Linked DNA regions of Homo sapiens. The protein of the gene in region 1 purifies or fractionates together with the protein of each later gene. This does not show direct contact. Each region holds a gene or a part of one and is shown on either strand. Other genes may lie near its edges. The genes, in order: PTPN4 and MPP7.

Region 1 (16,637 bases):
AAGAATATAAGAAATGAAATTAATAAACATGAAAAAATGTTCAACTACATTACCACCAAAAAGAAATACAAAAGAAAACAAAGTACCACTTCTTTCCATTGCTAGGAAGTTGGTGGTTCAGTTCTACAATCTCATATCTAAGATCTCTAGCTTCAAAACACTTTCAGAAGTGTTTTGAATTTCAGAGTATCTGGGACACAGACAGGTGATACGGCACAGATACCTTACATTAAGTAACATTCTTGATTCTAGGGCAGCACCCTGTATTCAACCATATTGCTATTTAAAATTTCTTTAAGGGCCAGGCACGGTGGCTCACGCCTGTAATCCCAGCTCTTTGGGAGGCCGAGGCAGGTGGATCACTTGAGGTCAGGAGTTCAAGACCAGCCTGGCCAACACAGTGAAACCCCGTCTCTACCAAAAATATAAAAAATTAGCTGGGTGTGGTGGCGTGAGCCTGTAATCCCAGCTACTTGGAAGGCTGAGGCAGGAGAATCACTGGAACCCAGAAGGCAAAGGTTGCAGTGAGCCAAAATCATGGCACTGCACTCCAGCCTGGGCAACAGAGCAAAAGTCCGCCTCAAAAAATAAAAATAAAATAAAATTTCTTTAGAGAATCTGAAGAATGTACACTGTAAGTGGAATAAATGAGACTAAGTAGTCTCACCTCAGTATAAGTCAAGTTTGGTTGCCAAATTAGTTAACAAAACTTTTGGGCTTTTTAGGGATGTGGGAATTTCAGAATTGCATATAACAAACTGTTGGTTACGAAATTCTTTTCATAAACAATTATGATAACACAGATCAAAAGCCATAAAAATAGCCAGATACAAAATGAGTCACAGTATCAGAATCACCTAAGAGAACTTTTTCAAATCACGATCCCTTCCCAAAGAAGACATTCCATTTTCCCTAGCAGCTTCTTGTAGTAAGCCACTATAACTGACTGCAATTTGTGCTAGGCTGGAAACAGTAAGATAAATTAGAAAGATTTCCCTTATTTCAATGCAAATGAAACAATTTGGAAGTCCTTGGCATTTGTAATGATATTTTGCTTTCATGAACAAGTATCTAAAAAAGAAACACACAAAAATAATATTATCTTAAAAACTGATATTTCCCAAATAACTTTAATCCCCTTGGAAAACTCCTTCATTTTATTTTATAGAGAGATGGAGAGATAACAAAAGAATTCTGATCAGATATGAATGTCAGATCACTCTGGCTACAGTGTAAAGGAGATTATAAAGGGCAAAACTATAGCAAACTGCACTTAAAAAGACTACTACAAGAGTCCAGACAAGGCATAATGGACTTATAACAACTAACATCAAGAAGATTTTAAATCATCCCAAATAATTTCAGAAGTTTTGCCAAGTTTCACATTGACAAACTAAAACTCAAGGGCTGATAGGGCTGTGATAGGGAAAATTAGGGGAGAAGAGGGAAACTCGCTAATGATGATGAGAGGCAATAGAGACAGGCAGTTAGAAAATAGTATCCAGAGCTTACAGTACCAGACAATAAGCAGTGATCCAGGCAAGCAGGTCTTTAGCATTGTAGAGGTCAGATAAGCAGGTGGTATCCCAGCAATCACGGAAAAACACAGTAAGGAAACATGGCAGCAGGCAATGCTTACAGTAGATAGCAGAGAGCTCCAGCTACAAGATTGGAGTACAGGAATTTAAAAATAGGACATTGTTAACACAGAAAACCAGGACAGAGCAGAACAGATACAGATCTGCACTCAAATAAACCTACTTTTATTTATTTATTTATTTTCAGACAATAAGGATTTATATGTCTCACAATTCCCTGGCCAGGAATTGGGTAAAAGCTAGATTAGGCAGCTCTTCTGCTGCACTGGATGTCATCTGGCATCATTTGGGATCATTCACTCATCTACATTCAGTTGATGGCTGGGCTGGGATGGAAAGTCCAAGAAGGCATCACTTTCATGTGTCCTCACTGAAGTACTCATCCACATGGCCTTCTGGTCTCTCCTGTGAGAGTTTGGGCTTCCTCACAGCATGGGAGTCTCAAGGTAATCAGACTTGTTACATGGTAACTGATTTCTACTGAGTAAAAGCAGAAGCTGACAAGATTTTTAAAAGCCTGTAGTCCCAGCCACTCGGGAGGCTGAGGCAGGAGAATCGCTTGAACCCAGGAGCCAGCGGTTGCAGTGAGCAGAGACTGCGCCACTGCACTCCAGCCTGAGCGACAGAGCGAGACTCCGTCTCAAAAAAAAAAAAAAAAAAAGTTAGACCCTTTAGATACAGAAAAGTCAGGCAGGTCATTAATGTAAAATGCTTCAGGGAGCACTAGTTCATACAGAAAGAGGTGAAAGGAAATGGGTTACACAAGTAAAAGGGTCTAAAACTTAAAGTTTAAATAATTAGAATTAGTTAGCTTAATAGTATATCTATACAATAGAACATACTACTATATTTTTTAAAAAGAAGAAGAAAGGGACAGCTTTTTATATGCTGAAGTCAAATGATCTCCAAGGTATATTTTAAATTTAAAAATTATGGTACAAAGCATTAATATAGTAAATACCTTCTACATAAAAAAGGTAGGGGGAAAACAGTAATCTTTATATGTGTTTCTATTTGCATAAATACCATAGAATATACAAAAAATAAAAGTAGTTACCTATACAGAACAGGAAAGAGAAGGAGTGGTATCAAGACTTCTCATTATATGCCTTTTTATATTATTTTGAAACTTGAACCATGTAGCCATATTGCCAATTCAAATACGAAAATACAATTTAAATACAATTTTAAAATGACAAGTCTGAGAATTATGGTAATATACACTGCTGTATTAATTAAACATTGACTTATCTGTACTTATTTTACTGTAGACTAACATAGTTATCTATGACTTATCTGTACCATTTCTAGCTATACACTAGATTTCAAGTTCCTCTGAAGAAAGAACAATAATCTTGATGATAAAGAGCATGTCTTATTCAATTCTGTATCCCCACAGCCAAGCACAGTGCCTAGTACCTAGCTGGTGCTCAAAGAATACATTAAATTAGCCCTGGATTGGATTTCCCTCTAAAGTCACCTCCAATTTTGGACGTAATTTTTAATTGTATTGCTAGTGACTCGTCTATATACAAGAATATACTTAGAATTCGTGTTTGTATAAAAATGAGCAAAGAGAAGCTCTTTACACAACTGTATAACAAAAACACAAGATACAAATTTAACTAAAAACAAAATAAACAATGACCCTTGGATTACTCCAAAGACCTACCAAAAGATGGCATTTAAAATGGGAGCAGGCAGCTATCCCAGATACATATCAAAGTTCACTCAGGGCATTTTTTTGATAGTAGGTGTTGCTAATTAGTTTTGCTTACCCAACTTTAAAATAACCATTACAGTTTCCTTCTCTTAATCCCAACAAATGTTAAGGTGTATGTAACCCTTGAAACGCAAAGGTATTTTTCTTGATGCTGTCCCCTATTCTTCCATGACCTGAGATCTTTTACCTCTATGGCAAACTTCTCGAAGAGCTGTCTCATCTATATTCATTGTACACTTGGTTTCCTCAATTTAGTTTATTACACTCTTCCACTATAACTCTTCTGCTAAAGCAACAAACCTCAAACTAGTACACCTCAGAAGAACCTTAGCATTTCAGCAGATTTTCCCAGGCTACCACTTCCTGGCTCCCCACTCCCCCTTTTAAGAATCTATAAGGTCTGAGATGAGACCTGGGGAGTTCATATTTTTCATTAGTATCTCCATAATTCTGATACAGGCAGCTCGCCTGAACACACTGGAAAACCAACTAGCTGAGATTATCAATAACTTTCCAACAGTCAAATTCAAAGCCTCTTGGTCTTCTCTTTTTCTCTCAGCAACATGGCAGCTTCATGAAATTCCTTACTTCACCATCATCTAACACACAACCACACTCCTCTCTCACAACCTTTCTTTCAGTCTTCTTCACTGGCTTCTTGATTTCGGAGAGCCCTTAATCTTTCAGTGATGGTAGTTAGGAGCTCTGTCAGTGTGCCTCTTCCTAACTTTATATATACTTCATAAGCAGTGACAGTCCCACCCATTGCTTCAGCTACCATCTATACAACCTTAAATCCTGCCACTTTGGATTCCACAGATACTCAGAGGCTATGCAGTACAGGAGAGAAAAGATGCTTCAGTATCAGACGAATCTGAATGCAAAATATTTACTCAGCTATTTACACAGTAACATGCCTAAAGACACAGACCTTTTTGAATTTCAGCTCTGTTCTCCTTTTAAAACTGGGAATAGCACCTTTCTAACAAATTTCTGTCCTGATTAAATGAGGGGAAAAAGATTAAATGAGAAGTTCTCTTTCCTACATGGACCTGACAGCAAGCTCTGAGGACCCCATGCCACAGGCCTCAGAGGCGGCAAGCAAGGAGAAAGGAGACAACTAATGCGGGGTCGGAAGACTGGCACATACAAGGGGATTGAGCAAATAAGTAAATACACTGAGGAGATAATAGGAACCAATTTATCACTGCTGGAGAAGAGATTTACAAATACAGAAAGGGAAAAGGCTAGACGAATCCTGAGATGTTAGATTGGAATTGGTTGTATCAGTGTGAACTTATAAAATACCTGTACATAGGCATAGAAACAGATTCAGATGTGTGTATACATATATGTATTTCCTAGCTCTATCCCCCTAAAAGTGATGACATGCCAGCAGAAATGAACACACTGAACACTCGGATCTCAGTTCCTAAATAGCATCTCTACTTAAAAAAGTAAAATAAAATCAGGATTCCTTGGAAAAATAAATGATTTCAGAGCTGGGATAGGAGAGTATTAAGATCATCTGGAACATCTTGTTAGGCCAGAAAGTAAGGAAATACACCAAGGAGGGGGACAGGTCAAGGAGATAGAGGAGCCAACTTAAAGGCCAAATTTGGGACAATTTGACCAACAAAATGAAATTTTAAAATGACAGTAACTAATATAAACCACTAAACAGAAACAAATCCAGGAGTATATATTGATATAAATGAATGAATAAATAAATGTATGGAGAAGAAGGAGAAAATCTTCTTTCAGTAGAATATGAACTAATAAATGTAGGTGACAACTTTCACAGTTGTGGCTGATTCAGGTAGCAATCATCAGACCTGAAGGCTCGTGGTTACAGCCTTCAGCTCTATTGACACACTCCCAGATATCTTCTCACATAAGAATTCCCAATTACAAAAGGAAAAAAACGATAACTTCACAGTAGAGAAACCCAGCAGACTTGAATTTAACAGGTGTTCAAAGTTAAACATCGCTAGTAGCAGGACTATACAGCACGTCTCTTAGTGATGTACTAAGAATATCACGACATTATTTCTATGGCATTCCTGCCAACAATGCACTCGGTCTGCACATGAGGAACCACTGGATGAACTTAAGTTGAGGAAAACATGTAACAGAAAAAAAGGACTCTGCTCATTAAAACTGTCAAGGTCATAAAGGACAGGGAAATATTGAGGAATCATTCCAAACTGATGGAAACTAAAAGATGTGACAATTAAATGCAATGTGTGAACCTGAATTGGATGCTGGACCAAAAAGAAAAGAGAGATACTACTGGGATAGTTGGAAAAATTTGAATGGCATCTAGGTTCGACCTGAAGGTAGTGTTATATCAACGTTGATTTCCTGATTTGGCGGTTATGTAGGAGATTGTCCTGTTTTGCTAAATACACACTAAAATATTTAGTAGTGATAGGGATCATGTCTGCAACTTGCTCTCAAATAATTCAGGAAAAAAGCCAAATGAAATTAGAAATGGTGCATTCCCCTGAAATGGAGAAATAAGGATTAAAATGTAGGACCAGAAATGAGAGATGATGAGGTTGTTTCACTGAAATTTGAGGATCCAATTAGATACAGTAGAAAAAGGGAAAGGGCTAAACACAATTCCAAGGTGACCACTTGGGGCATCTGGAAAAGGCCTTACTGAGCCAAGCACGAGGTGTTCCAGGCTCATCTTGAGCTGTGTATACACACGGTACATAGCTAGTACAATGTTAAAAATTAGTTTAAGGCGATTCAGGAGCTCTTTGTTGTACTTTTCTTGAGATTTCTCATTAGGTTTGAAATTATTTCAAAATGTTAAATGAGAACTCGTGACAACTTCGCTGTCTAGCAAAATACCTGGCTCACTGGAAGTGCTCAATAAAAATAATCTGGCCTTCCCTTGCTAAAGAAGGGAAGCTGCCAAAGAAGAAATCCTAGCATCATCTTCAACTCTTTCCCCCCATGTCCAAATGGACTCTCAGGTCTAGTGAAACTACTCAGTTTTCAGTTCTAATCTCATATCTATATTGCCCTATTTCTGGTTCCTATCATCCCTCCCCTGGACCACTGCAACAGCATCTGGTCTCTCTGCTCCATTTCTAACCTCATCCTTGCATTATCCTTGTAACTTTGCATCATTATCTAGAAGTCAGGAGTTACCTTTCAAAACCTGCATCTAATCTTATCATCCCTTATTTAAATACCTCTAAATTGTTCCTGAATGTTAATGCTGATTTCCCAAGAGGCAGACTAAATGCATGTTTAGGGCACCAGTAACGCAAGGGCACCAAAGAGATATTTCACACACACACACACACACACACACAGACACACACACACACACACACACACACACACACACGCGCGCACATGCGCATACACCAGTGAAATGGGGGAGGCAGCGGGTAAAGGGAGGGAAAAAGAGAGAGAAAGAGGAAGGTGACTTAAGAATTCTTAAGTTTACCTTAAGCTTACTTTAGGATTTGATATTTATTTCTGATTCCATAGTGGATGCCAAGGGTGAGTAGGAACCATAAACTTTCTAATACTTACAGTCTCTAAAACAGTGGTTTTCCCAATCCTTTTCCCAACTTGGCAACAAAGAAAATAATAATTTCTTAGCACGTTGGGATAAGCCACAAATGCTATTCAAAGCCAAAAGAAACCATCCTGGGGCAGGGTGGGGAGGGGGATCTGATATGCCCAGGTCCCATTAAACAAGGGTATCTTGCTCTCCGAAACACTGGTAAACCATTCATGGCACACCAGTTGGGAAGCTCTATTTTAAAGGTCTTAAAATGATCCCACTCATTGCCCAAACACAAGGACCCTCACAAGACTTCATTTCCCACTGCAATCAACGCACATGCGCGCGCGCACACACACACACACACACAGATTCACACACAGGAACAGACAACCACACCCACCCAGACAGAGACAGACATATCCAACAAGACAACTTACATTTCTCCAAACACACCACACATTCTTTCATACTTTGACTTTTTCTATATGCTGTTCTCTCTACCCAGATCAATTCCAAATGATCCTCCAAGACCATATTCAAATGCCACTTCTTTTCCCCAGATCTTATTACACTGTCACTATGAATTGTTAATTGTTTGTTGACATGTGTTACCACCCTAGAATTTGAGCTCAAGGACAAGAATCATGTCTTATTTACCTTTATACCACTGCTCCCACTACAATGGGCATTTCAAATGTTTGCTTAACATATAAAGGAATGTTCATTACATCATCACCAAATAAATTTTCAAATTACATTAATTAAAACAATGAAATACAATTATAAAATTAGCATTTTTTTCTTCCCAAAACAAGAACAACCACTGTAGGTACTTCTGTAAGAGAGAGATCTGGCACAGAAATATTCATGACACTTGACCATTATCCCAGTCCTAGGGTTTTAAACTGAGGAAATAAACAAAAAACCGCTTAACAAAATGTAAATGTCTAAATCAGTTATGGTATATCACCTGAATGTTTAACTAATCACTTAAATTATATTCATTGACCTTGGTGGCTTTGGGTAGCTAAAATAAATAAATAATATTCATGAAGATGGGAATAGAAAAATGAAAAAATAATACCAACTATCACTGACTGATCATCTCTTGTATTTAAAGCACAGCGCTAGATGCCTTACATATAGTATCTTAATCCCCACAATTCAAGACCACCTGACTCAGAAATGAGACACTTTGCCCAAGGCTTTTGACGCTAGATTCCACACCAGATTTGACTCCTGACTCAGAAATCAGACAGTTTGCCCGAGGTTTTTGACGCTAGATTCCACACCAGATTTGACTCCAAAGTCTGTGATCTTTCCCCTACATTGCACAGCCTCCACCATACAATGTTCCCATTATATTCCTCTCAAAATTCTCTCTACCACACAACTTTATTTTTTAAATATGAACAATTACCTGGAAAGAAACAAAAAATAGCTATTATGGTGGTGATCAAGGGTAAACGTTGTTACAGTATTTATCCTTTTTAAAAATTAGCAACTTTTAAAAGTAGCATTGTTGAAAAATGAACTAAATTCATAAGACAATACAAAAGACGCTATTCCTATTTTAATTTTTTTAACCTAAGAAAATTAAGGAAACAGAGTAGGTAACATAAAAACTTAAGAAAAAAAAAAAGCTTAAGAAGATATTAAACTATATCTAAACAAGCATATATTAACCTTAGGGTACTTATTACCAGGATTCATTAACTGATCCTTGTGAGTGGATTAAGCAGCATTCTTCCAGAAACAGGTGAATTTTGAAAAAGGTTTAAAGAGGAGGCACATGAATTGGAGACAGAGATGTTTAAATTATGGAAACGAGGACAAAGGAAAAAACAAGACTATTTTCTTTTTAAGCACGAATGAGAAACAAGGTTAATGAGATGAAGTTGGTAGAAAGTCTTCAAGGTCAAGCAGGTAAATTTGGGATTAATTTGATAAGCACCGGGGAACTCCTATATATTTTTAAACGGGAAGGTGGCATGTTAAAATATGGCCTTTAAAGATTCAAACTTTGTTCCATCATAAAGTACTGCCTTGAGTTACACAATGTTTTTGCCGAACAGTTGGGGAGGTGGGGAATAATCCACTATCCTTTATGTGTGCTTTATACATACGCTTCTCAAAAAGAGAAACTGACTAAACAGAAATCTTTAGGTAATGGGTGAGCATATTGGGGAGGGGATCCTTTCAGACATAATGCTTGTGAATATTGAATGCTACTGTATGTTTTAATAACAGTCACAGAACTTCAGGCAAGAAGGAACCTTGGAGATAATCTCTTAGTGGCGACCCCTTCATTTTCACACCAGATTAGACTGAAGCCCAGAACTAAACAACTTGCCCAATGCCATGCATAAACCAGTGGAAGATTAAATACTACAACTCAGATTTTCTAAGCAGTCAGACCTAAAGCTATGCTCTCCAATACTATAGCTACTAGCCACATCTGGCTATAAATTTAAATTGATTTAAATTAAATACAATTTTAAATTGAGTTTCTCAGACACACTCGTCACATTTTAAGTGCTCCATAGCCACACATGATTAATGGCTACCATAACTAACAGTGCAAAAAATATTTCTATGATATTTGTCAATTATACTTCAATAAAGTTGAAGGAAAAAAGAATATTTCCATCATTGCAGAAAGTTTAATTGGACAGAACCGATCTAAAGAATAAGTTTTAGAGAATTCCACTTACTAGAAGTATGAGCCTAGACAAGTTATTTCATTTCCCTTAGCTTCTATTTGGCAGGGAGAGGACAGGGGATTAATAATACCTACCTCATAAAGCATACTTGGTGAGTGGGACAACATGAAAAGCCCCTTATACAGGATCTGACACTTAACAGACAATAAATATTAACACTCTTCCCCTCTGGGTCCTTTTTTCTTTCTACTACTCTATATAACCTCCTTGTTAAAAAATACAAACACAATAACCAACCCAAATTGATATTTTCCTCATGATAGTCTATACGATGTAATTTTCATTTTGTTCTTACTAATTAATTCAAATACTTGCATCTCTCTTCCAAAGTTTCTACTTAAGAATAATGAAATGAAGAATGAATGTGAGGGAAGATATCTCTAATGAAATGAAAGAGTCTAATAAATTTCCCCTCCTCTTTTTCCCCATTCATGCAAAAGATAAGAAATTATGCTGTTCCTAGACAATGGTACTTTCATATCAATAAAGAAGATTCTACGGTATTTCTACATTATATCCTATCTCATCATCTATACTACTCATTAAATATTAAATGAAGAGATAACACCTCCTTCCTACAGTGCTTTCCTGGCAAACAATAAAAAGGATTTTCAGAATGCTAAGCCAAACTTCAAGGCTTCACAGCTTATTCTAGTAAACTGGCAAATTTAACAAATCTGGATTATAGTACATAAAAAACTTCATAACATGCAATAACCCAGGAAAACAACAAAATTCAACTCAGTTAGTAAACTTCTACCAATAACTAAATTTTACATAGGAGCAACAATTCATATTTAGCCACAATAACCATTCCTAGGGAGTTGATCAATTTTGCATTCTAACTAAGAATTTAGGCAAAACTTTAAAACATTTGCCCCTAAACATACACCAAACAAGATTTCCACGTTTCTGGAAAACTTTTCTTGTTTAAAAGTGGCCATATTAACTCTCAAGCGGGGGGCAGAAGTACTCTCAATAACAAACCTCCTTGCAATTTTCTGCTAGTCTCTTACTTTGCTCCTTAAAGACAACTTACTAAAAACCATGATCACTGATCCCGCTTTTAGAGTTTGTAAGTCATAAATAAATACTAAACAGATAACAATGGATACTGTACTGTACACCTCAATTATGTTTAACAGACAAAACTATTTTAAAAATACAAATCACAGTTTAATAACAACCTAACGAAGTCATACAAGTTAAAAAAAAAAGCTGAAAAGTTTTTATTACCATCTCACGTAAATTGTATTACTATCCCACTTTATTATACTTTTTTTTTAAAGTTAGGCATCTATGCTCAAACTGATTAAATCGAGTATGAGAGATCTATACTTTTTTTAAAAGTCCTTCAACAATAATGAAGTGTACACTGGTCACAGAATAGTTCAAATGAAATTTCCTGAGGCTGCATTCTAAGTACATCCGACCCAGAAAGTATTTTTAGCAAGTACGTTCAATCAATGCTGGTTTTATGCCTAGCCTAAATTAGAAATTGGGTGTTATAAATTTAAAGTAACAATGTTACTAGGGACATTTTAAAAGATATTTAATTAGAACATAAGAAAAAAACACAAGTTTGACTCAATTCAATACCTACAGCTCTGAAGCTAAGATGTTAGAAAATGGGCAGTAAGAAAAATCACATCCTCGTCTATTACTACTTTTGAGGAACTCGTGATTTTCTAACTTAATAAACATGGACCTACTCAATTAATATTTTTAAAAACTACAAAATAGTGGTGCCTCCTTGGATTTTAAAAACCTCTTGCCAAATTTTTAAAACAGACTGGCAACATGACAAACATTCCCATGTACAAAATAGACTGTTTCTCTTATAAATCACTGAAGATTATGATACTATGGGACCGTGCGTGTTTCAATGCAAAATGTAACAAAGATATGTGTACCATAAAAAATGCGAAGAGACATAAAAATTGCTTTTGTGGTAATTGGAGCATAAATTTATTCTAACAAAAAAACAGTGATGTCCACAAAATGATCACACTTACGAGCTAGTGAAGAGGTTCTGTAGAATACACAAACTTCTGCTTACGAGTTTTTTCTTTAAAAGAAAGCTGAATTTATATTAGTCAAATTCAAGATTTAGATGATATACCTAGCTCTATTCCATTAAGCACAGTTTAGGCTCTGAACAATCCTTTATTTTAAGGCCATCTCCTTCCCCCTTAAAATTGAAAAAAAATTTTTTTCCTCTGGCACGTTAAAGTTCAGAAAACCAAGATTTAAAAATGCCCTGGCTTTTACTGTTCCAGTCTTCTTTCTACTCTAATTGTCTTTTGCAAGTCGGACACATTGGCCTTTTATCTTTCTCCATAAATATGTTTTAAATGTGACCAATCAGCTGTACTGTTTCAACTGGGCCCAAGATCTGGACACAGAAACTTAGTATTACTGAAACCTCTTATTCGAAAAGCAGCTGGCATATTGCAGATGCATAACAAGTTATCCTAGAACAGGCGTTTTGAAAAATCCTACAAATCGTCCTTGTACATACTGATGTCACTACATGATGCAAGCCCAGACATAAAATCTTCCACCCTAAGTTTTGCAGAAACATCCACACATCACCTGTGCAACTGTAAGCTGTTCCATTTTATGGAAACCCTGCGAAATGCATCACTGTTTACCCACATCTCAACTTTTTTTTTTTTTTTTTTTTTGGCTCAACTACAGATTCCCAAATACAGGTATATACTGGTAGAATCATAACAGGCTTAAAACTTCAATGGTAGGAATAGTTGGCTCATGCAGCGTGCAAGAAGCGCTCATATGAGCCAAAAAAAAAAAAAAAAAAAAAAGGAATTCTACCAGCAATGGAAAACTCAAGATTCCAAAGCTTTACCTAGAGTTTAGGTACTGGGAACATTCCATCTCCGCACCTATTCCATCCCTTGGCCCTTCGCTGACCCATAACAGAGATTCCAACTATAACCCCCGCAAAAGCAGAGGTCCCAGGAAGAAAGGAAAGAAAGCGTTTTTTTGTTTGTTTGTTTGTTTGTTTTTGTCCTTTTTTCCTTCCTTTCAAATCATCCTCGTACCTCCGGCTTGCCCCACCTGGCTCACCTCCCAGGAGCCACACATGCAGGTAAGAGCCTCCCGTTCAACGTGCAGGGCCGAGAGGCCGGCGGGGACCGGAGAACCTCTTACCTTCGTATATCACAGCCGCGTCCTCTCGGCTGGAGAAAAAAAGCCTCGAGGCCCCGGCGCGCAGAGGAGAAGCGCGTCCTCCGTGCCGCTCCGGGGGGCTACCTCAGCGCCCCCCGAGCAGCCGCCGCCGCAGCGGTCGCGCCACGACCCGGAGCCGCCAGCACCACCTCATGCTGCTGGGCAGCCGCGGGCCGGCGCCGCTGGGGAGGTGGCAGGGAGGCGGGCAGCCGGCGACCTCTCCTACCTCCCTGCAGGGATGAGATAATCCACACCCCCAAAAGTGCGTGGGGGAGGGGGCCTGGCCCCAATCCTCCGACCCCGCGGCCAAAGCCAAGTCTCTTTCCTCTCCCGCTCAGGCCCAATTCCGGCCCCTGGGACCCAGGAGTCCTGAGAGAACAATGTTGGTGGTGGGGCGCGAGGAGCGGAAAAGCGCACTGCGCGGCGTGAGCTGGCGGGTAATCCTGGGCAGCGTTTGTGTGTGAGAGTGCAAGAGGAGCTCAGTCACCCCCCTCCTTCTCCACCTCCTCTTCCTCCCCCTCCTCCTCCTCTATCTCTTCCTCCTCCCTCAAGCACACCCCCTCTCCTAGGCCGCAGCATAGCAACCGAACATGGCGGCTGCGCAGGCGCCGCCAGTCAGTGGCCAGGAGCGGCGGCGGCAGCAACAGGAGGCGATCTCGCGAGAGGCGAGGCCAAAACCCTGCCTCGCTAGCGCAGGGAGAAGTCGCACCAGTCGGAGCGCAGAGGGACACGCAGGTGCGAGAGAGAGCGGCCTAGGAGGATTGGGAGGGCGGATTGGAGGGGGGAGGCGGAGCGCTGTGGCCCCCGCCCCGCAGCCGCGTCGCGATTGGTTGTTTGGACTGCGACCCCTGCTGCACCCACTGACCGCAGGGACCGGATAGTGGGCAAGAAGCGTGTGTTAAAAGGGAAAACCAGACCAGTTGGCAGCAGGTCGCCCCAACCTCAGTGCTCCTGGAGGATATAGGTTTTGGGGGGCAGTTTTGAATCATTTCCTCTCCTAAACGTAGGCTCCAAAACAAAGCCTCAGCAACCAACCTGCGTTTATAAAACAAACGTTCGGGGGCTCCTTCTGTGTGCCTGGAACGGTGTGCTTTTTAAAATTTAATTCCTTCTAATAACATGAATTTGGTGTTATCACGCCAGGGTTTTTAGCCAGGTGCATTATAATATTTTATTGGTGATACAAACTTATTGGTAATACCACAGTTGCCTACTGGCGAATGATCTCAGCTGAAATGGAGGAAGAAGGGATTTGGGGACCGCCACACTTCCTTTTTGCCCAATTTTTGTTAGTGCCCTTTTCTGTCGCCAGGCGCCTTCTTTGTCCTTCCTTGCTCTTAGCTTGAGCATCCTATCAGAGCCTACCTTTATAAAGACGATCTTTCAAAAACCACTTTCCCAAGCCGACAAAATGACTACAAATCAGGGGAATGTGAACAAATCTGGAAAAGACAGAAATTTCTATTGACTCTCTTCTCCCTCACACCTGTTAGTTTTTCCATTTGAAAAAGGCAACTTGTCAATCCATGTTTCCAGCTTTACTTCCTTCACTTGCTTTTCTTCCCAGATCTCTGTTGTAGCCAGTGCTCATTCATTCCTCCCTAAATATGCATTCCTGCCTCTGACTCTCCATTTTGTCTTTGATCATGCCATTCCCTCTGCTAAAATGCTCTTCACCTCATTGTCATCTGTCAACATCCAGTCATCCTCCAACCAAAGATCATATGAGACTTCCACCAGAAATTGAATGTTTCATATAAATAGAATCATACAATATGTAATTTTTGTTTAGAGGCAAGGTCTCGCTATGTTGTCAGGCTGGTCTCCAACTCCTGGGCTCAAGAGATCATCTTACCTTAACCTTCGGAGTAGCTGGGATTACACATGTGAGCCACATGGCTTACATGTAGTCTTGTGTCTGGTGTTAAGCAAGACACAAAAGTTCCTGAGTGGAACTTCCCCTGCAAGTCACCAGGATGGACCCTTTGAAGTTACCAATACTCACCATTATTCCTTGAAAAATCTGAGTTCACCTTAAATCTACCTGCCTGCAACCCTGGAAAGAGAAGAAGCAATTATTGTCCTTAAAAAAAAGAGAGAGAGAGCTTTAGACTGTGCCCCAGGCTCACATGGGCCCACTGAAAATTGAATTGGGAAATAATAAATTAGTATATCTCACACTTTAATATACATGCTGATCACCTGGAGTTCTTATTAAATGGCATGGTCTAATCCATTAGGTCTAGAGTGGGCCCTGAAATTCTGCATTTCTTTCTTTTTTTTTTTTTTTCAATAGAGACAGGCTCTCACTGTGTTGCCCAGGCTGATCTTGAACCCTCCTGACCTCAAGCAATCTTCCTGCCTTGGCCTCCCAAAGTGCTAGGATCACAGGAGTGAGCCACTGCACCTGGCCTAGAGACTCTTTCTAACAAGCTCCCTGGCTTTTGGACCACCCTGGAGTAGCAGGGGTGTAGACTACTGTTCCTTAAACTGGAGTCTAAGAAAAAATATATGCAAATTATCTATAAAATATGTAAATATTTTGCTCTTACTTAAATTATGTTCTTTTAAAAGTTAATATATTCTAGTCACTATATTGGATCATTTGATGACCACCTTGTAACGAAACCCTGCACTTGATTTTGTATTTGGCACCAACCACAAATTTAATTTTCTGGGGCTAATGGGAAAAGAATAGAATACTTCTTGTGGAAAGGACAGCATTCTGGCTAAGTGAAGGTCATACGTCCTTTACGGCACACTGCACAGAAGTTTAACAGAAATTCAAATAGAGAAGAATGTTGAGATAATTAAGTCAATTATAAGCATGCCAAACAAAAAAGTACATACCATAGCAGTGAGTTCCATATTCTCATATCAAAGGACAATTTAATTTCAGCAAAACAACAAATATAATTCACCACACATTACATACATCATATTAATTGAATTTTTTAAATTTGTGAATTTAATTTCTAAAATTGTTTTAGTTTTATAGACGTGAGCTATAAGAATAAGAAATTATTACCTAAAGTTTATGTATAATTAAGAGACATAATTAAAATGACTTAACAGTTGGAAGTTAGCAAGAATTTTTTTTTTCATTCAAAAGTGGCCTCAAACATTACTGGATATTGGCAGACACTGCTATTGACTGTTTTTTTTTCCTTGTCTGCAGTCTGCCCTTGACTGTGCTTTGGGAGAGTAAGAGCAAAGGTTGTATCCACACTTGGAGGATGTTGGCAGGCGAGGACTGGCCGTTTTGCACTGTGTGGTCAATGGTAGGACCTCTCTTAACCCTGGGTAGCTACAGCCAGAAGGGAACAAGCATTTGTTCTTGCCTGTATGGGCCTTGGCAGTGACCCCAGGCAGCAGCCGTGAAGAAGAAACTTTGACTAGGCACTGTGGCTGACTCACCAGCCACCCACTATCAGTAACTGGAGAGGACTTCTTTGGAAGAAATGAGTAACCGTAGGATCACTGGGGATACCTAGGGAGAAGAACCTCAACAGAAGGTTGGACTCTACTCGCTAGGTAGAGCTCAGAGTGGTATGAATTTTAACTTCAAAAAAGCACATGACTTAAACTGACTTGATTTTGTTGCCTACGCTGGTGAGGTGGGACATACAAAGGTATACAGGCTTTCAGTGAAATGTGAGTCCTATCTAACCTGGTCCCCAACAGGAGACCTTGGTTAGGTACCTGTCTGCCTTAGCTAGTCAGTTAAGGGAGAATTTCATCTTTTTACCTGCCTGGAATCTTCATGCATAACTTAAAAGCAAAAGCAAGCAAATTTAAATAATTTAAACCTTTAAAGAGGTGTCACACATGTTTCCAATAAGTTCAGGATTCTGTGACTTGGGCTT
Region 2 (16,637 bases), on another chromosome or scaffold:
AAGCCAGCAGTTTGAGATCAGCGTGAACCACATAGTGAGAACCCATCTCTACAGAAAATTTTAAAAATTAGCTGGGGGTGGTGGCGCATGCCTGTAGTCCCAGCTACTCAGGAGGCTGAGACAAGAGGATCACTTGAGCCCAGGAGTTCAAAGCTGCAGTCAGCTATGATGGTGCCACTGCACTCAAGCCTGGGCAACAGAGTGAGAGCCTGTCTCAAAAAAAGGAAAACCTTTTTTTTTTTTAAAGAGAAAGATAAATGTGCTGTCTTAAGAGAATGAACTAGAAAGGTTCTGTGAAAAGCACGTGGTGAGTCCTGCACACTGGGCAGTAGTAAACGTCCCATTCTGCTGGATGTCACTCTGCAAGGGACATGTGTGACACTCCTGACAAGTGGAGAAACTGTGTCTATATTAGTGTGCTATTATTCACATGGGCAAGGTTAAATCCCCATACTAGAAACCACTTTCCTAAATTCCCCACCCCCTACCGCAATCCGTCCTAAAAGTCTGCAATAATCCGCAACCACAGATCAGACCCCTAAGAGTTAACCAATGCTTTCCAACCTGCATGGCATTGAGTCCCCAGGACAAAATACAAGAGACAATAGGGCTGAGAACGCTTCCAATGGAAAGACTAGAAGCATCTACTCTGATAGTGTTTGAGAAGCAACATCTTGGGGAATCCCAGGAGAACACAGTTCACTGAGACTGAGTGTGAGCAGTAACAGTTAGAAGGTTCTTCACCTCAACCATCTTCGATTTAAGTGATCAGATATGAAATTTACAACTTAGTTCATCTACACCTCTTTCCACCCAAACTCTGAACTCTGGCATCTTCCAGATAGTATTAGTATTAGGGGAAAAATACGTTAGGTTTTTTGTTTGTTTGTTTGTTTGTTTTGTTTTTTGTTTTTGTTTTTTTTTGAGATGGAGTTTTACTCTTATTGCCCAGGCTGGAGTGCAATGGCACAATCTCGGCTCACTGCAACCTCTGCCTCCCAGGTTCAAGCGATTCTCCTGCCTCAGCCTCCCGAGTAGCTGGGATTACAGGCATGTGCCACCACGCCTGGCTAATTTTTTTGTATTTTTAGTAGAGACGGGGTTTCACTATGTTGGTTAGGCTGGTTTCGAACTCCTGACCTTGTGATCTGCCTGCCTCGGCCTCCCAAAGTGCTGTGATTACAGGCGTGAGCCGCTGTGCCCGGCCAATGTTAGGTATTTTTTAAAACCCCACGTGTTTCTGTTTATACAAGACCCCACCAATATTAAGAAAATGTTTGACAATGTTTTAGACATACAAACTTCATGTAACAACATAAGCAATGTGTTTGTTTCTGAATTAACTTTATGTATGAAAACAACAAATAAAATTACTTAAGAATCCAGGAAGAAGAAGCTTACTCAACTTGAAAAGCTTTATTACAATGACTTGTAGCATCCTGTGATATATTATTCCTAAGTGTTAAGACATTCCAAAATACCGGTACCGTGTGCAGTGAATTCGTTATTTTACTCAATGCTTAAATTCTTTTTTGCCTATTGTGATTATCAACTGACAAATGTTTGCCTTTGAATGAACTAAGTTACACCTTGCTTAAATGGATACCCTTTGGCTTCAGTTAAATGTTTTCTTTTTACCTGCATAATAATAATCATGACTAGTTAAAACAAATTCTACAATAAAATATTTTGTGTTTTCCTTTCTAATCTTTAAATGGTTGAAAAATTGTACATTCTTGTTTCTTTGACTGCAAGAATTTTTTAAGAGTTATTGTGTAAAACAAAAATTTTGAATTAAGGTTATTCAGTCAGCAATATTAGAAACTTTTAGGTTCTTATATTTTGATAACTAAAAAAAGGAAACAACACTATAAAAACTCACACTTGAATATTCTGTTGTAAAATACACTACCTGAATAACAGCTTTTTCTTACTCCTTTCTGAAGACAATATATACTGGATTTAAATATTTAATATAAATCACATCCTACTGAACTTAAATTAATTTGATGTCATTAGGAAGACAATTCTTAACTTGTATTTAGATTTCAATAGAAAAGCAACAAACAATACCACAAATGAATTCCTATTTCTTTCTTAACGGTTAGGTAGTACATGCAACCAAACTATAAAAATAAGTTTTAGGCAGAAAATTAGAATACTTTAAATTATATTGACACAAGAAATGCAAGCTGCCAAGTTCCTGTCATGCAAAAGTACTCCTACATTCTATCTGAGACATAAGATTCACTTTTACTCATTTCCAGAACACTTAAGCTACATCTTGTATATAATAATCTAAAAGCTGGTCATATAAAAGAAAATCTATCAGACTTTGAGGCCTGCTTTTCTCTCTGCATTACTAATATAAATCCATTATGTGGGAACCTATCATTAGATGATGGAGAGGGAGGGAAACAAATTTCCATTACAAATATCTTTGTTCGGTAAGCAATTCTTCCAAAAAATAGGGGGAGGAGACAAGTCCTTATATCCAGCTACTTAAGACTTAGAAATATTTTAGGTTTAAGAGGTCATGTTTTAGTTTTCAGGAATTTTTTAAGAGGTAAATTATTTTTTTGTTTGAAAAGCCTTTTTATTCTTCTGGGTTTGTATTAGATACACAAAGATTCTTTAGGGGAGGACATAACCAAGCAACAAAGATGAATATGACTTGCACTTATGAATTTTGCATAAGGAGGCTAGTTTCAAAGCCTAAAGAGGTTGTTATTATCATGGCTCCTGATTTTACTTACCTTGGAGCCAAGAACTAGAGCTCTAGCACAAATATAAGTGCAAAAATGCAAAGACAGTAAGATTGGGATGTGCCCTTCCTTATTTATTTCTATGTTGATATTAACTGAAACCCTATAGTTCCAGAACCATCTTCCATGAACTTTTCCCCCATGCAAACTCAAGTTATGGTGATACACTACAAATGAAATAAAAAGCAAAATAAAGATTTAGAAAAGAGTAATACGAGCAATCACTTTGTATAAAAAGTTAACTGGCTAATTTCGTAAATGGTATTATGTGACTAAATTCATTATTTCAAATCCTATATTTGCAATTTCCTCCTAGATGTTAAGTACACTTGTAAAAATTAGTGGATAAAGTTTTTATCACTGTATTTTTAAAATAAATTTATAAACATTGACATGATAGAATTATTCTTCCTTTATAAATTTTAATTGAATCAGAAACTTTTTTTACAACCCTATTCTATTAATATTCAAAATCATAAAAACAAAAGATTTTATACCAACTTGCTGTTTTTCTTCATGGCATTTTCCTATAATTCAACAAAGGGCATGATAACGTAAGTTTCCTATTCCAAAACCCTAAGTACCAAATATTGAAATCCAGAAAGTAGTGGATCAGATGGCCTTTACAAGTTTTAGTTTGGTAAAGAATCATCATCAAAACATAGGTTAAAGTGTTTTTAAATGCCATTTAAAATGTTCAGAATCAATACAATGATTTATGCATAACTTTTAACTTTATGTGAGACAATATTCAAGGAAATTTCAAGTAGAATTTCAATTCTTTGAGAATAAAGACATTAGCTGCCTATTTGTCACAGAAATATATTGTCTCTCTGAACAAGTCCATATCTGTTATATGTTTATGATTTAATAAGGATAATTTTGACCAGATTTATTTGAAAATAAATAACATATATAAAAACAAACAATGCATCTCTCAGTGAATCAAACTCTAGTTTAATAAGAGAGACAGAGAGAGAGGAGAAAGAAAGAGAGGAGGACCAGCAAACATTTCTGAATGGTATTCAAGAGGCAGAAAAAGCAAAAACAAAAACAAAAAAAAACAAAATTAGTCAAATGAGGACATTTCAGTAAAGATAAATGCTAGAATAAATATTTATCAGATCCAAATATTGAAGTATTAACATAAAAAAGAAATCATGCAAATCAACATACAAAAGGACTCCGTTACAATTAATACTTCTACATACACACACAAACAAACACACATACCCCCACACACACCTCACCTTCCTATGCATCTATATAGAAACCAGTTTGAAAGAGCTATTAAAAAGCAAAATATCCCTTTTGTATAGTTCTTTTAAAGAAATACATATACACTTATCAAAAATTTTCAATCAATGAAAATTTATAATAATATCAAACTGTACATTTCTAAGTTGCCTAGGACTGAAAAAGAGTTGAGTATGGATCCAGATTCGAGTATAATTACATTTATTTCATCTTTAAGTGACACATTATCTTATCCCACATATGCCAAATATATTAGAAATGTGTAAGCCTCCTATTTAAAAATCCCTTTGAGAGCCAGTCAGGCAAGGAGCCTCAAAGCTCCTTTCTGTTAGTGAGTTGGCCAGTGAAAAGTCATCACGCTTAAGAACAGTGCAATATTCTCACGAAAGCTTTAAGTTTTCTGATGTCAGAAGACTTGTAGCATTCTGTGACAAGGGTTTTTTTCCTTGTGCCTAGACTTAATGTAGCAAGGACAAGCAGGCTTTTGAATGAGTGCTCCACTTTAAGCATTTGCCTGCTTGTGAGATTTATACTCGACTACAGTTTGGCTCCCTTCTAATGTGATTCCTGGGCTATATGCTTCTGCAAACTGACAGAAATCACAGGAGATGTGAAAAATGCAACAATACTAAAAACAGATGTTGGTGTAAAATTCCAGGGCCATTTATTTGGTCATTTCGCTGTTTAATGTACAGTTTCTATGCTAAAAACAAAGGGTTGGTTTTTTCCTCTTAAAATACCTAGAACCATGAAACATCTAGGCGAGGTGGAACAGGGAATTTATGGGATGCAGACTTGAAGAGCTGGGTGGTGGGAAATAAAGAAAAGCTGACAGAAGATTAGGCTGAAAGAGAAAAAAAAGTATTTAAATGCACACTAAGTTTTTCAGTAGTCATACGGTAGCCATCCTTTGTCTTTCTCTCATTTTCTTTTAATCTAGTCTGGTAATAACTCCAAAGGGATAGGCTAAAGGTCAGAAGTATTATGATCTGGGGATAAGAAAGGAATTAAGAACAATTGGTCTTGAGCACAATTGCTTTTGTACCCAAGAAAATGGTAGATTTTTTTTCTCCCTAATCTTTACCAAGAAATACCTAACCCAAACTTCCTGGCTTTGAAGAAGGAAGAGCTGTATTTTAGGTGACATTTAATAAAATAACTATATTTGGAAATCAAAGACAGTAGTAGTAGTAGTCACTTTCTTAAAGAGTGAGTCATGGATTTATTATTAACAACCTCAACCACCCCTTTCCTCAAAAGATTCATGTTAATATTCCAAATATGAATCTCATATTTGTTTGTTCCTGAGAACTGATGATCCCAAAGTTATTGCTAGGGTAATAGGACCCTTTGTTCTGCCATGAGCACCTGCTTTAATAGTCAAAAATAAACATCAGGGTTTGGTTTCTCTGCATTCTTATTAACAAACTTACATGATTTCCTGTTGGAAACTTTCAGGGGCTGAACCAATATTTCTGGTCGTCTCAAAGCCAATCTCCTGGGAGAAAGAAGGTCAACATACCTATCAATTTTCAGCACAGGTCCGAGGTGAATACAATATCAAAATATTTAGTCTTAAGAAAAAACTTAAAGGTTAGAGAAAAAAATGAATGTAATGCAATAGATTCAAATTAAGAAACAAATCGCCCACTTTCAAATTTTTGTAAATTATCTTCCCTCCCTCCAAAACCACTGGTCTTTTTTTTTTCCACCTTTCATATCAACATGGTTTCAAGATATTAATGTGCTATTTTCCATTTGCTTCATAACAAAAATCTAATATGACCCAGTACTGTCATATTATTTTTGGTCATTCATCATACTTAGTTAGACAAAACAGAAATCCAAACCCACAGGATAAAAAATTCTAAGGCAAGGTTTTATAGCATATTTTATCACATCAATGCCAGAATGATATTTTGCAGAGAACAAAAGGTCAGCTGGAGAAAAGCCATTATTATGTACCAGCAGCTCACCTTTCCTGGAAATGCTTTGAGGGGATCAAGCCTGCCCTGGGGTTGGCATCAGCTTCGTGTTTCGCTTGCCACCAAGTTGCATCATCTTGGCTCATAATCTGAAGAATATCTCCCTTTTTGAAAGAAAGCCCAGCTTCCTTACATGGAATTGCCTTATCCTCATTAGGATTATAGTCAAAGAGGGCTTTGATAAACATCTGGAAGAAAAGTTTCATTAAAGATGAATAAAGATAAAAAATAAATGTGAAATGGCCTATATTCTCCTAACTCCGACTCCAAACATAGTAATTTTAAAACTGGAATATTGAAAGAAATGTGTTGTGACAAAGTGGATATGTGTTGGATGGAAAAACATGACTTCCCTCCCACGCACGAAGAAATGTTTTTAAGCAATAATTACCTTGCCTTCTTTTGATGGTGTCTCCTCTTTGCTGCCGGGTATAATCTTAAATGTAATTGCTCCCTGAGACTGAGCCTGGTAACAGATAAAACAAGGAGTTATAAGAAAACCAGACCCAAGGAAGAATAAGGTAAAATAGGTAGAAAGTGAAATGCATCTGAAAATTTACAAGCTTGGGGCTTCTACTCTTAGATAGACTAAACGGAGGAAACTATTTTTGTAGAAATTCCTGTAATGTGAGAAAGAAAGCTCTGAAGTTTGTAGAATAAGTTAAAAAACATTAACTCCTAAATCCACTTTTACTTCCTGTGTACTTTTAAGCTGTCAAGTAAATACATTCCCATCCAAGTTTCTTCGAAATAGAAACACACAAAATATGCACAACACCTTAAATAAACACAGTATTCAATGACTAGAACAGATAATGTATAAAGGTCTGGGTGCAGTGGCTCGTGTCTGTAATTCCAGTGTTTTGGGAGGCAAGGTGGCAGGATCACCCAAGCCCAGGAGTTCAAGACCAGCAATATAGCAAAACCCCTGTCTCTACAAAAAAAATTTTAAAAATTAGCCAAGCGTGGTGATGAAGCTAAGGCCTCTTGAGCCCAGGAGTTCAAGGCTGCGGTGAGCTGTGATCGCACCACTGCACTCCAGCCTAGGTGACAGAGCAAGAAGCTTTTTTTTTTTTTTTTAAAGAATAATGTACAAGGTTCATACAGTTACATTTAAGTATCAGCATCCATGTTTTGGGGGACAAAACACCTATAATGTCAGTAGTGCAGTTACAAATACATGATTCAATTAGTGGCAATGCCCATCAGAAAAAAAAAATAAAGAACATTCATATCTATTGTATTCTGGTGAGCGAGTAAAATATCCAACGTAATAGATTAATTGAAAGATGAAAAGACTGAGTATCTATTCTAACTTCATTAAAATAAGTACCAGCACCCACAAGTTTTTGTTATCTCAGATAGGATTTCTCTTTAAATATAGTCTCATGTCATTCTCTGTCTCTCTCTTTTTACCATGTATTGTAGCCATATTTAATTATTTATGCCATTATTTCATAAGATATGTTACTCCTGCTAATTTGTAAGCTCCATAAAAGCACTAAATACTTGGCACATTTGAAAGATATGAAAGGAAGGGGGGTAGGGCAAGACATATCTCTGAGTCTCACTATCTGTGGTGCACTGGTAAACCAGGACTCCATTTATTTAAAAAAAAAAAAAGGCTCTGATGTGTACTGTCTGTCAATTTCCATGGTATAAATACTTTCACTATAGTCAATTTCAATTCACCAGCATGAAGTTGCTGAAAGCTGAGTTGGGAAATGGTGCATCACACAGTCAGCTCTGGGCCGAGCCTTAAGAAGGCAGCTCTAGTGCAACACAGCAAGTTAAGTAAAATGGGATTCTGATAGTTTAAATAATAGAATTTTATAAAGGGTTGATTTATTTCAAAATGGTAATATCATTGCTATTGCTTATTGTAGAAGGCGCTCACAAATCTTATAAAGAATTCTCATACTGTAATACTGAATTACATTGGTAGAGAGAAAACAAAAGTCTTTTCTATAATCTCCTCTTATTTTTCTAGTTTGTGTCTGTGTGTTTTTTTTTAAATGGATCTATGGTCCTTACAACAGTGTCATTTAATAAGGACTCAATTGTTATTACTATTACTGCTGAGCCATATAGGTCTATCTCTCGTGATTGCCTCACAATAATCTAGCATATGGATGAATGATTATTTGATCAACGCAACTTTCTTGGTAGTTTCCGAATATTTTTGAAAAATTTTGTTTATACACATTTACCAAATTATTGCTTGAGGATTAATTTCCAACTAAAGGGTATGCACATTTAAAATTTTGATAGTTTCAGATCTCAAAAAGTTCTACTAATAATTTATCCCATCCCCAAATCATATAAATATACCTATTTTCCTATACCCTGACCAACTCTAGGCATTATCAAGCTTTCCAATCTCATATCCTGAAAATGCTTTGAGGGGATCAAGCCTGCCCTGGGCTTGGCATCACCTTCGTGTCTCCAGACATCTATGTTTTCTTTTGTAAAGTATTTGTCCATATGCACTGCTGATTTTTCTGTAAATGTTTTTCTTATTGATTTTTATCATCTCTATATATTTTGAAACATTAGCCTTTTATTATATATACTGAAAATATTTTTCATACAATCTCATTTGTCTTTGATGTTTCTTTATGGCACCTTTTTTCTATAAAGAAAGTTTTGAATTCTAGTAGACACATCTGTTATTTTTCTATTTGACTTTCATATCAAGGTTAAAAAGTCTTTTTCTACCTTATAATTATAGAAATTGTATATTACCTTTTATTGTGCAATTTTTGTTTTTTTTGCACTTATTTAATTTGTTGGGAATTTATTTTTATGTATTGTGTAAAACAAGGATTGACCTTATTTTTTCTGCGCCATTAACCTGATACCATCTATGAAATGTTCCACTGTTTTCCCACTGATTTAAAATGCCACCTTAACCATATACTAAATTTTCATATATACAGAGATCTGTTTTTGAGACACACTCAAACCTCTTCTAGTTGGTATAGGTTTCCAGTATGTTTTCACATATAAAAGAGAGTTTCCCTTCCTTTTATCTTACAAATGAACTTTAGAATTAATATTTCCAAGGCATAAAATAATTTTATTCAAGTGTCAGATTTCAAAAGACATCTAAATTAGTTTGACTAATTTGTATTGCTATGATCTATAGCATGGAATGTGACTGTGTCAATGGGAGGAAGACAAAGATAAATGCATCACCAGCCACAGTGTAGATGCCATCTGCTAAGTATAGACTTGGGACAGGGACAGGTACTAAATTCTTTTTTTTTTTTTTTTTTTTTTTTGAGACAAAGTCTTGCTATGACGCCCAGGCTGGAGTGCAGTGGTGTGATCTCGACTCACTGCAACCTCCATCTCCTGGGTTCAAGCGATTCTCCTGCCTCAGCCTCCCAAGTAGCTAGGACTACAGGTGACTGCCACCACGTGCAGCTAATTTTGTTTTGTATTTTTAGTAGAGACGGGTTTCACCATGTTGGCCAGGCTGGTCTTAAGCTCCTGACCTCAGGTGATCCACCTGTCTCAGCCTCCCAAAGTGCTGGGATTACAGATATAAGCCACCACACTCGGCCCTAAAACTCTTTATATATACTATCTCATTTAATCCTCAAAACACTCCAGATGGATAGTTACCTCTTATTCTCATTTTGCAAATGAAAACACTGAGGCATGAATAGATTAAGATATTTTCCAAGAACACACAGGGATTAAGTGTTCGAACCCTGCACTGCTTAATACAAATCCTGTCTATGTCAAACCAAGTCTAAAAGTCTGAAATACAGTGATTCGATTTTATTTTTATTGTACCTTTAAAAGAAATTTACAGCTTACCAAAATCTGTATTATTTCCTCAGGCCTTTTATCCTCCACTGGTATCCCGTTGACTTCCCTAAGTTCATCACCAACATGAATAAGACCTGAGAAATAGGAGATTTGGTAAATTAGCAGTGTTACCCACAACCAAAACTGTAATTTGCAGCTGTTTCCATAAGTAAAGCATTGTTAGGTTCCCTTAATACACTTAACGAATGGAAAGGAGACCTTCACACATCTCAGGTTTCAGCCTCTATGCCTCTCCATAGCAGTGACTCAAAAACCACAACATAGTAATGCTGGCCAAGAAATGGTAACAGGAGCTTGGTCTTTGTCTAGAAATGCACATTACTGATATCTTATACTAATATACTAATAAAATAATTTTTATTTATCTTAAAGGCTGCATGCTCTTAGCAGTACTTTTCAATTGAGAAATACAGAAGAAACAAGATTTTTTTTTTTTTTTTTTTTTTTTTTTGAGACGGAGTCTCGCTCTGTCACCCAGGCTGGAGTGCAGTGGCACAATCTCGGCTCACCGCAACCTCCGCCTCCCAGGTTCACACCATTCTCCTGCCTCAGCCTTGCAAGTAGCTGATACTACAGGTGCCCGCCACCACACTTGACTAATTTTTTTTTTTTTTGTATTTTTAGTAGAGACAGGGTTTCACCGTGTTAGCCAGGATGGTATTGATCTCCTGACCTCGTGATCCACCCGCCTTGGCCTCCAAAAGTGCTGGGATTACAGGCGTGAGCCACCACGCCCGGCCCACAAGTTTTAAGATAGCTTTGGATGCTTGTGTACAAGAAGACCATAGAGTAATGTTTATCTATCATTTATTTAAATAGGCTCTCACATTTCAACACAGAGAAAAATATCTTATTACTTGTTCTGCTGTATTAGATCCAAAGATGGTTATCCTCTTAGTTATCTACTGGAAATGCTACACACGAAACACGTGATTAGTCTGTACTTGGTTAACATTTAAAGTCTCACCACTTCTATCTGCAGCTCCTCCTCTCATGATTCTGGCCACAATGATCGCCCCGGTCTGTTCATCCTTCTTAATGGTAGCTCCCTTTTAAGACAAAAACAAAAAGCATTTGTGGGTAAATGTGTGTACTAGGTGTTAGAAAAGGAGGAAATAAGGACATTCATCTGAAAAAAGAGAAAACAACTACAAAAACGAAAAAAAAGAAATGAGGCAGGAAAAATAGACATCATGCCATTTGTCTTAGAATGTCTATTCTCATGACTAAATAGAGGAAATTCTATCTACATAGCATCAAAGGGTTTCAGCCCAATTTAAGGATTTTTGAAATCTTCAACCTCTTCAAAACTGTGTAAAATAAACATACCTTCTTTCCATTATAAAAATACCTTGTATTTCAATGCTGTTTGGTTTTTATCCTTTTAAAGCAATTCTTCATTCATTTCATCCTTATAGTACCGCATCAAGAAAGTGGAATAGTGACAATTACACTAATAGACAAAAGATTCTATATGTTAAAAAACTAAAACCCAGATCATTTGACTTTTAGTTAGTTCAGTGATCCTTCTATCACCCTCAGTTATCATAGTAAAAAAATAAAAATTTAAAAATTAAAAAAAACTTGGGCGATAATTATAAAGAAAAAGAAAAAAGTTAAAACCCAGAAATTAGTTATATTTGTTGCCTAAGTCTAAGACAAATGATTAGAAGAAAGAGCTCTTACTCCATGGTTTTAGTGAACTAGGATTGTAACTAGTACAAATAGAACTAAGTATTGGCATAAGATTAGGAAACAGTCTCAAAAAGAAGCCAAAAATTCTTCACTTACAGATACTCAGAAGCAAATTAACTGCTGCCTTGTAAGAACAACAGGCACAAGTGGTTACTTTGAAAGCCTTTCCATGACTTTCCTTTTAAGAATCTGGCATTGGTTTTGCAAAGCCATCCAACATTGCATAATACTGCTAAAAAGGTATGCTTTTCAGTGGCAGCAGAATTCATCCAAAAGAAGTGAAATTTTTCTCCAGTTTGTCAATAAACACATTTATATCATTAAAGAACAGATATGTAAACAAAGTAAAAGTCCATCTGTAATAAGTATCCTTTATCTATAACTATCAGATACATAGCCAATAATAGTAAAAAAGTCAAAGAATTAAGTGACAGGCATTTTACGGCATTTTTCATCACCTGTGCATGTATTCAAGGCCAGAGACTTGAATGAGCATCACTTCATGGTCATAAAGCTTAGACTCACCAACTACTAGTATTTTCTGCTTTTATTTCAATTTCTAACTTGTTTCCAAAATGACTGGAAATGTAATATTCTCAATATAACTAATTAGTTTGATTAAATCAACTTTCATTTTCCTTAATGACATGTCTCAAATTTTCCCACCAAATATGCCCAACGGCAGAAAAGCCTAGTAATCTAAGTTTACTTATCCATAGTTTCTGGATGATAAACTGAATATTAAATGGTCGTAATTTGTCTAAGATCAGATAACTAGTATATGGAAAAATCAGGACTTGTTTAAGGTAATCTGACCAGAGACACAATCATTCATCTCAATCATCATCCAATACTGCTTAACCTCTATCTTCCCATAACCTTTCGTTCATAAGTTCATTCTGTCTATGAGTTCATTACTCTTGGGGGAGATTGTCTCTAAAAGGGGGATCACCAATTCCTTCCCTCCTTGTATGTGCATGCCATATTCCCACATTAAGTGGTAAAAATGGTTTTGAGGCTTCAAAGGCTATAAGAAGATCTGTAGCTGCCACTTGGGCCTCTTGAAACACTTGCTCTATGCGAATCTCACTGCCATGTAAGAAATCATGACCACTGCTATGCTCTGAGGAATCCCAAGCTAGCCAAGTAAAGGTAACAATTAGAGAAAGAGACACTTGGCCAGCCCCCAACCTTCCAGCTCCAAGCCCAGGTAACAGTTGTGTAAATGAAGGAGCCCTCAGTTCACTCCAGCCACCACCATCTGACTGTATGTATGAGGAACTCCAAGTGAGAACCTCCCAGCTGAGCTCATCAACCCCCAAAATAATATTGTTTTCGCCACAACATACAGCCGTGGTTTGCAACATAGAATTAGTTAAGTGGAACCAATCTCTCTCTGTACTATGGACTGTACAGTTTTTCAGTATAGGGCTATCTAACCTGTTTGTTATACTTAATGCTAGTTCCTTTGACTTATTCTGTATTCAATGAAGTTGACCAATGTTTATTGAGAACTTACTCTGTGCAAGGCACCGTTCTAAGGGCTTATAATAAACTGATGAAAAAGAAAAAAATGTCTGCTTTCTCATCCCAATGGGGGAGACAAGACAATAAACAAGAGATGGAATAATTACATACATTATACAGTATGTTAGAGAGTTAGTCTGTTTTCATACTGCTAATAAAGACATGCCTGAGACTGGGCAATTTATGAAAGGAAGGTTTAATGGACTTATAGTTCCATGTGGCTGGGGAGGCCTCGCAATCATGGTGGAAGGCAAGGAGGAGCAAATCACATTTTACATGGATGGCAGCAGGCAAACAGAGAGCTTGTGCAGGGAAACTCCCGTTTTTAAAACCATCAGATCTCGTGAGACTTATTCACTATCACAAGAACAGCATGGGAAAGACCTGACCCGTGATTCAATTATCTCCCACCAGGTCCCTCCCACGACACGTGGTTATTATGGGAGCTACAAGATGAGGTTTGGGTGAGGACACAGAGCCGAACCCTATCAGGTGGTAAACACTGTGGGGGTGTGAGGGGATGTAGGGCAGGAAATAGAAGACCAGGATGCCAGGGCAGGCGGAGGAAAGACAATGTGAAGACACAGGACTCACTGAGAAGATGATGTCTGAGTGAATAAAGACTGGACGGAGGTGAAGAAGTTAGCCAATGGGAAGGAACAGAAGACACAGCCAGTGCAAAGGTGCCAAGGGGAAGGCTGTGAATAAAATGCTCAAGAGCGAGCAAGGCAGCCTGTGTGGCTGGAGCCCAGTAGCAGAGGAGCGGCAAGAGGAGATGAGGTAAAGGCAGAAGGGAGTCAGCTTATGTGCTTTATGAGTCACTGTGAGGACACTGGGCTTTACTCTGAATGAAAGAGGGAACATGCAAGGTTGTGAACAGCAGGAGGGGCACAACCTAGGAGGACCACTCCACCCACTGTGCTAAGAGTGAAGGATGGCAAGGGCTAAAGCAATGAAATTAATGAGAGGTTAATCCCTTGTCTGAAATGCTTAGACCAGAAGTGTTTCAGATTCCAGATTTTCTTTTCAGATTTGGGCACATTTGCATTCTTATTGGTTGAGCATCCCAAATCCAAGAATATGAAATCTAAGAGTCTCCAATGACCATTTCCTTGGAGCTCATGTCTGCACTCAAAATGTTTCAGATTTTGGCACATTTTGGATTTCAGATCTTCAGATTTGGGATGCTCACTCTGCACAGTAATTCAAGGGAAAGATGATGGTGGCATGGATCTGACTGGCAGGAGTAGAGGTGATGAAAGGGGATCTGGCTATATTATTGGTGGAGTCTAAAGGATTTCCCAACAGATTGCCTATGGAATGCAAAAGAAAGAGAGGGATTAAAGATAGGCTCAACTTCTTTTGGCTGAGCAGCTGGAAGGATGGAATTGCCATCAACTAAAAGGGGTTAAGACAAGGGTGGAACAGATTTGGGGACAAAGATCAGCAGTTTATTTTTGGATATGTGAAAATTGAGATGTCTATTAGACCTCCAAATGGAGATAACAAATAGACAGATGGATATACGAATTTAAAGATTAGAAGAAAAGACTGGAAGAGAAATAACCCTGGGAGTCTCTGGCACATAGACGCTTTTTAAAGCCATGGGCAGAATAAAATCACTTTTGGAATGTATAGATAATGCAAAGCACTCCAACGCATAAGGGTCTCATTATAGACAGAGATAAGTGCCCTGATAGAATCTTCTTGCTATCCCCTGATTCTACTTTGCTTGGAGGGTAAACTACAGACTTGAAGAATAATCTCTCACTTTCTACATGATACTACCACTTGAATCAATCTTCACTTTGAACCCTTCATTCTTGAAGACTTCTATTTCCATATTGTTTTCCAAACCTCTCTTACCACAATTGTTTGATGTATTCCCAGTGCAATATATTTCCATGAAAATAAGATCAAATCTCAAAAACACAGAGCACATTACACGTGATACTGTACAAAAGTCATCAATCCTATAGCATAGTCTGCCAACACAAAATAAATTAAAATTGGATCTAATATTTTAAAAATTACTTATTTTCCTACATAATTATTTTGAATTTATTCTATGTGATTTTGTTTTAAAAACAGAGTATGGAGAATTTCAAGTTAGATTGAAAAAATAAATTCTGGTCAGATTTTTCTTAATTATTAATTCTGTAAAATGGTTTATAAAAGGGGACTGCTTACTGGGTTATCATGATTTCCTTAAACAAAAAATTTATCTCCTATAGAATTGCTTGAATCCAGGAAGCGGAGGTTGCAGTGAGCCGAGATCACGCCACTGCACTCCAGCCTGGGCAACAGAGTGAGACTCCGTCTCAAAAAAAAAAAAAAAATTTACTTTATTTATTTCCTATAAACTGCCGTATTGCAAGGTCTCCTCAAGTAGGTGGCACAGTGAATTTCAGATTGAGCCTTTGAAACAAGTGTTTTTGAAGTGTGATCTACCAAAAACTTGCACCAAGAACATCTGAGACGCTTTTTAAAATCAAGATTCCCAGGCACCAAAAAAACCCTCCTGATATAAATCCCTTGGGATTCAGCTCAGAAATCTGCATTGTAAGTAAGCATCTCAGGTCATTCTTCCAATACCAAAATCTGAGAACCACTGTTCTCAAGGAAGCAAGAGGACAGCCGATGCAAGTAACACTGAGAATTTAGGATCGAAATCTACTCACCAACAAACAGAATTTCATTTTCAAGGGATCTTGCCCCTTAAGTAATTACCCTTTTTCCTATCCATTATCTAATACCCACATAACCTGTGTTCACAGCCTGTTCTCTGAGGTAACCATTCTCTCCTTGAGCAGATGCAACCTAGCTTTTATAAGTATTAACTAGAATATAAATTCTAATATCTTTTAAATATTAGATGGAATATATTCTAATATCTTTTAAATATTAGATAGAATATATTCTAATATTTACATAATGTTTGCATAATGCTTCAGAACTCATAAACCATTCCAAACACATTATATCTTAGCTGATGTTCAAAAACACTTGCAAAGAGGTACATTTCCTGATTTTCTGATAAGGAACCTGAGGCTGAGATGGTGAGTGGTTTGCTCTATAGGATACAGGGCAAAGTGACAGGATCCCAACTCCCACTTAGGTCATCCAGTGCAAGCTCAGTGTTCATGTCACCACATTATGGATCCCAATAAACAAAATTGCATTTTTAGATAACACTGGTAACCTATCCCTTGGTTGCCAAACGTTACAGCCTTTCCTCATGAATCACTTGCCAAGCATTTCCTGACCATCCACTTGCTAGAATTTTATTTCAGCTTAGCTTCCAGCACTTTGCCTACTTCTGATTCTCACGACTGGGGCTCATTCTCCTAAAGATATCTTTGACTCTTAATCTTCTCTCTGTGTGTTTTTCATTGCGCTTTGACAGTCTTGTGGCTTCTCCAACAATTCCCCGAACTAACAAATGTCATTTGACTGATGTTAAATAACAAATTTGTTGAAAGTATTTTCTATTCTTCTGGGTAGTGTATTTTTTAAACTTTAAATTTGTTCACACAATAATCTTACTTTACCTTAACAATAATTGCGA

What was found.
Region 2: the proteins of PTPN4 (region 1) and MPP7 purify together in Homo sapiens (affinity purification with mass spectrometry; 2 studies listed by BioGRID and IntAct, with this or other methods). This does not show direct contact.

The regions. Positions count from the first base shown.
Region 1 is NC_000002.12:119,756,501-119,773,137, reverse strand, and holds the start of PTPN4 (tyrosine-protein phosphatase non-receptor type 4), read right to left. Parts: upstream 13,217-16,637; 5' UTR 12,754-13,216; intron 1-12,753. UniProt on the Homo sapiens protein: Phosphatase that plays a role in immunity, learning, synaptic plasticity or cell homeostasis. Regulates neuronal cell homeostasis by protecting neurons against apoptosis.
Region 2 is NC_000010.11:28,114,196-28,130,832, forward strand, and holds part of MPP7 (MAGUK p55 subfamily member 7), read right to left. Parts: intron 10,897-16,637; coding exon 10,815-10,896; intron 9,922-10,814; coding exon 9,836-9,921; intron 6,474-9,835; coding exon 6,399-6,473; intron 6,196-6,398; coding exon 5,999-6,195; intron 5,521-5,998; coding exon 5,456-5,520; intron 4,867-5,455; coding exon of another isoform or gene 4,862-4,866; exon of another isoform or gene 4,664-4,861; intron 1-4,663. UniProt on the Homo sapiens protein: Acts as an important adapter that promotes epithelial cell polarity and tight junction formation via its interaction with DLG1. Involved in the assembly of protein complexes at sites of cell-cell contact.